2 separate regions of the Homo sapiens genome follow, and region 2 is linked to region 1. Evidence: fine-mapped expression QTL. A gene starts in region 1. The other region holds a variant in brackets. All regions are shown on one strand. Distances are from middle to middle.

The links. PIP is the estimated chance that this variant, and not a neighbour inherited with it, causes the effect.
Region 2: its variant is fine-mapped to the expression of SLC16A7 in testis (GTEx, PIP 0.95).

What each region holds. Positions count from the first base shown.
Region 1 is chr12:59,594,417-59,597,338 of GRCh38, forward strand. It overlaps SLC16A7 (solute carrier family 16 member 7), which reads left to right and starts at 1,613. Exons shown (of 6, transcript NM_001270623.2): 1 at 1,613-1,820. RefSeq lists a silencer at 1,542-1,611 and enhancers at 2,082-2,221, 2,272-2,421.
Region 2 is chr12:59,687,605-59,690,526 of GRCh38, forward strand. The region is part of intron 2 of SLC16A7 (solute carrier family 16 member 7); the gene reads left to right. Among named protein-coding and RNA genes, the nearest start is that of SLC16A7, 93 kb to the left of the region's middle. The variant A/T (reference allele first, on the strand shown) is at 1,711.

The DNA.
Region 1 (2,922 bases):
GCTATAAGTAGTGATGTTTGGCATTCAGCAATAGGTTAAACAGGTCAAGAACATGGGACTATAAGAAAAAAACAACAAAAAAGAAAAATCAAAGAGAAGGAAAAGGGAGAATAGGATCAAAATTCAGAAAGCATATGGTCTTTCTTCTTCCTCTTCTTTGACAGGAAATAAAAGTGATGAATGAGCAGGAAAAATATCAATAGCAAACACTCAAGACTATGACCTTGAAATGTGCCTTTATGTTGTTTCTTTTAAATGTTTAACTTTTTTTAATTAAATGAAGTGTTTATAGTCACTGCTAGACATTTCATCATTATCAAAGGCCTATTATGTCTTATACAAATGTCTATTTAAGCATTTTTAGCTTAAAAATATAAAATCCTTTCTGTAATTTTCTGCCTTTTTTTCATTTTCAAATATCATTCTTTCAATAAAATTATCTTCCAGTAATTTTGATGTTATTAATCACGATTATTTTTTCATCTTGTATTATGCCTACCAGCCACTTCATGTATATTATTTCACTTAAATCTTATGAAATCAACACGATTGATATTACTTTTATTTCATAGCTACAGAAATTGAAATTCAAATTTCGTCCATTACAACAGACTAGCTGTGGCAAAGACAATGTGAATTTACCCAAATGACTTAACTCTTTTTATAAATTCGTAAAATGTGAAGAATCATAGAACACACCTTAAAATGATTGTGAAATCAAGGAGGAGAAAGCTAGCTAAACTGGTAGACAAACTGCAATAGGACTTGTCAAGCCAAAACCTACAATTATTCTTTTGGATAGTTTCTTTTTCTCTAAAGTGGCAATTTAACTTAAAGATATTAAAGAAACCCAATCTATGGGGTTACTTAAATGTTCTCTTCCAGCCCTTCCTCTTTCCAGTTTTACCAAGAAGCACATTTTAGACAGGGGAAGAGACCAAACCAATGACAGCAGAATTACCATTATCTCTAGCACTATTCGTTGTCAAATAACTAAATGCTGGTTTGAAGAACTAAGTAATTTGAGAAATTAAAAATGAAAGGAATTATAAATGATTTGAAAAAAAATCCTTCTTATTTTTAATGTTTTTTGGTGCTGTTTTCTATGTCCTTCCTCCTATGGTGTCAATTATATTTTTTTCCGTGAAGTGATTTGGTTGGTGAGTCTAATCTCCAACAGTGCCCTACCTCTTTCTCCCAAAAAGGCCTCAGTTGAAAAATGGCTCAACACTTTCCCTGCAAGCTCACAATGAGGATCTCCTATTCTCCCTGCATTCGGCCAGACTCTTCTTTTTTTGCATGCTTTCCTCTCCCATGCTTGGGTTGCACAGAGCTACCGCACATCTGTCTTCTAGGTCAGGCTACAGAGTACTTCGGATACAGCAAGTTACGACCCATCTGGAAAGACAGATCTACCTGCCTTTTGGCTTTCTTCCTTGGTCAAAACTAAAATCCGAAGTGGAGTGCCCCGAGCGATAGAGAAAGTGCCTATAGCTTTGACAGCCGCTTGGAGCATGCTCAGTCGGTCTCCAGGCACCGGGAGGCGGCTCCCCCCCACCACCCCCCGGGCCGGCCTCCACCGCAGCCTGTCCGGCCCCCACCCCTGGCGCGCGCTCCTCCGCACCCACAAGGGCGTTCAGCAGCCGCGCCTCCCCTTCCCGCCACCGCCTCCTTCTCCGCTGGCTGTGGCGGGCGAGGACACGTCAGGGGCCATAAATAAATAAATAATTCCATTCACCCGTTGACAGCGAGGCGAATCGGCTGCGGTTTGCTGGGAACGGAGGGCTGCAGCGCCCACCCTGCGCCAGAGACCAGATAAAGTAAGTACAGCTGGGGAGGGAGGGGAGAGGAGGAGGAGGAGGAGGAGGTGCCGGCTAAGAGGAGGGCGAGCCTGCGTCTGCGACCCGAGCTGCCCGCGGAGCCGCACGCGTGTGTGCAAATAATGGCCAGCCTGTGACAAACGTGCCAACGCAGAGTTGGCCAGCGAGCCCTTATATAGACAAAAAAATCCCGAAGCGGCCGCGGGAGCAGAGCTCGCGTCAGCCAGTGCGCGCCGACAGCTGCCCGGGAACTGAGGGGGCGCGCGGGGTCCTGGGCAAGGAGCGCCTCGCGTGCTTTCGGCCAGGAGGTGCTCACGCTCTCGGCTTTTACACCGAGACTCAGCGTGGCGCGGTGCACCCCAGTCTCCCTGGCTCACGGGACTCCGAGGGCTGCTTCCAGTGCGGCGTGTCTCTAGTGCGCGCCCCGCCAGCATCCGGCCCCCGAGCCCCCTAGGGTGGCGTGGCTTCATTGCCGCAGAAGGTGGAGGCGGGGGTGGAGTGTGTGGAGAGAACGTCTTCTCTTTGAGCAGATGATCAGGACAGGAAGAGGCTGTGAGGGGAAGACGAAATACCGGGGGATGGGGGGGTTGTCTTTCTTCATTTTTGGTCCCCAGGAAGGATGGCAGGGGTGGAAGCAGATGGAAAACTATATGCGGGCGAGGCCTGAGCCCAGGCAGAAAGGGACCTCTGACTTGGCAAGGGTTCAGGAGGGCCTGAGCCTTCTGGTCTTGCTGGGCCACTGCACCACATTGGGGGCGCCAGGCCCGGTCAGGTGGCGCCACAGGCTGCGAGCCCGCTCACGTGCGAACTGCCTGTTTTCTCAGCGGATGCTGCATCGCGGCGCCCTTCTCCACCCCCTTTTCTCCTCTACTTCCGCGAAAAGGATTGCAGACTGCCTTGGAAAGGGCGGTCGTGCCCAGTGCCACTTTCCCGGTAGGGCTGAGGAGGGACTTCTGTAGTTCCAATTCCAGGGAAATTAAAATTTTACACACACACACACACACACACACACACACACACACACACACACACACGAGACATAGAAGAGGAAACGAGGAGTGGTTTCTCTACAATTGTTTTTTGATTTCCTTTCCTGTATTAT
Region 2 (2,922 bases), 93 kb after region 1:
CTGCAATCTCTTAGGGCTTACAATAACAGATATTTATTTCTTGCCCATGCTGCTTAGGCACTATGGGTCAGCTGTGGCTCTGGTTGGTTCTGAGGGGCTCAGCTAACCGTCAAACATTTTCTTATTTTCTGGGATCCAGGCTAAAGGGACATGTTCTTATTTTGGAAAGCAAGGACTGCTATAAAGGCAAAACATGCAAACACATTTTAAACATACTCTTGGACATGGCCTACACTGCATTGACTTACATTCCATTGGCAAAAGGCAGTCACATGTCCAAACCTAAAGTCAATGGATGGGGGCTATACTTTGCCTACAGAGAAATATGACAAGTATGAGTAGGGGACAAATAAGTATTAACAAAAATAAAATCTACCAATTCAATTCACTCGTAAGTGTATGGTAGAAGAAAGACCTGGTAACTTTATTAAGTTCCTATGAATTCTACATTCCTTCCCTTCAACATGGCTCTTTCATAATCCTGATTATTGGTATTATTTTCTGACTCCAGTGGATAGTTAACATTCTGTGGGTTCCAGCTTTCATTTCCTCCTCTTCTTTTGATAATTACCAACTAATTGAGTGTCTCCTGAAGTCATTGGGGAAGCACATAGCTGGAATGGTGGAGGCAGAAAACCCAGGCAAGTGACCACGAGGAAAGCCATTATTAGAACAAGCAAAATACAAGAGGGTGGAGAAGGAGTGGCAATATGACCACTTTAAGGAGTTCATGAATGAAAGATAGTAAGTTGGTAGGAAGTGTATGGCTTTTAATTCATTAAAAACATAGTTCTAGAGTGAGACGAATACTGCGGTAGACTTTAAGACTTTGAACAAGATATTTGACATCTTTGAACTTTATTTTCATTGCCTGCCAAATGAAGACAATAGCTAAAAGATAGTATTATGTGAAAATGCATATTAAATTGTTAAGTGTCTTGCTTATTGATACTTACCTGTACCATAACAGGTGGCAGCAATGTTTTATATATATGCAATTGGTAATCAGCAAATGTTATTTATATCTAAATTTTTATGTGGTGACTGTCTGTGAGTATCCTCTTTACAATTATGCAGGAGTCTCATAATTTCATTTAGGTATGACTAAAGACAAATCAATATAAAACAAAAAAGGAGAAACTTAAAACAACGTAGGTAAGATCTGTAAATAAAATACAGCTTCCAGTTTCATTGTGTTTCCTTACAAAAACTATATTTGAATCAGTTGTGGACTAGTTAAAAGCAACCTATTTTTCAAAGCAGACATAAAAATCAAAATTAGGGCAAATAAGTAAATGTGTAATATTAATTTAAGTACTGTATATATTATGCCATTATAGTGGTATTATATCAACTTAATATAATTAAGGAATTATAATTTTTTCTGCAATCCTTATCCTAATTCTATAGCCTATGTTTATGTTTTTTTGACATGTGTCTTTTATCACATATTTGGAATTATGCTATCATACAGGTTTATATCACTATTTTTAAACTAAAAATTATATAATAAATACTTCCCTTTGTATTATGGAGCTTTCCTAATCATTATTTAATGTATATATAATAGTTTATCAAGTGAATGACAGTAATATATGCAACCGCTTCTCAGAGTTGGCATTTAGATTAGTTTTCCCATATTATGATTACTCAAGTGAGCTAGGGGAAGGGGTCATAGAATCCTGAGACTAGCTGACAAAGTGTTGAGTG[A/T]CAAAGAGATAGATGGAACTAAGTATGTTCAGGATTCTAAAAAGAGCAATGGTTCACAAGGAAACTTCTGCCTCAGGTGGGGAGAGGAGTCCATAGATCAGGGAAACTTATGTCTTGGTGAAATGGAAGACCATGTTTCTAAACACCTGTCGCCAGGTTGGTTCACCTTGCTGTGGTACTGTTCTTAATCCTGCCTCAGTGATACTGTATTTTTTAGAAACTTAAGGGATTCTAACATCTTTCTGAATCTCATCATTGATATCAGGAGATCCTGTGGGGTTTTTTTTATTTGATTTTTTAAAATGGGCATTTTAATATAAAAGTCAGAAAGGTATTCTTTGGCCATGTAATCTTCCTAGAAGTATCCAGGAATTTTTCTTTAACTCCTCTTCCGTAGTGCCAGTTAATGATCTAATGCTTTCAAATTGAGAAAAGAACCAAAACACCAGAGAATCTTTGGAAACTAATGCAAAATGGAGGATCCAAAATCTCTTAAATATAATTCTGTTTTTTTCCTAAGTTGAAAGGTGAGAAAAGTATTATTAAGTGGCTTCCCAGCTATGCTCTAAGGAATTCTAAACTTTCTAGGAAGAACCAGGGACAATTTCAGGAGTCAGGGGATGCTGATAAGTGGAATTCCAGGCTCTCTATGATGCTTCCAACCCCATAAACCAGAGTAGCTGGTTTGCATAGCAGGATTCTGAGTAAGATTTCATTCCTAGAAAGGATTCTGTGGCTTTAAAAGCTTTAGAAGGAGAAAAACAAAAACAAAACGGGATATACACACAATGATTGTTATCATCCTCTTTTACTGTAGAGCCATATACGTAATTTCCCTAAGCCATGACTCTGGGAGAGAAGAAAAGACTGCACACATGGTAACATGTAAAACTCTCAGATAAATTTTTCCCTAAAGGACATGAAAATCATATTTAAAAGTTTGGGCTGACTCTCCTTTTCAGGAGGGGAGCACTGTTCAGCACTGTTCAGGCTTCCTATGTAAGGGAAGAAAAAAATAATTTTCTTTCTATATTTTCTGAGTTCTTAGCTGTGACCCCAGTAACTAAGTGCAGATTAACAAGAGAAAAACAAAAAGAAGTTTATTAAAGTATGTACATCATTATACTTGTGAGATACCCAGAAAAATGAGTAAATCTCAAGGAGGTGGATTTGAATTCAGGCTTTAATACCATTGTCCACTGATAAAAAGAA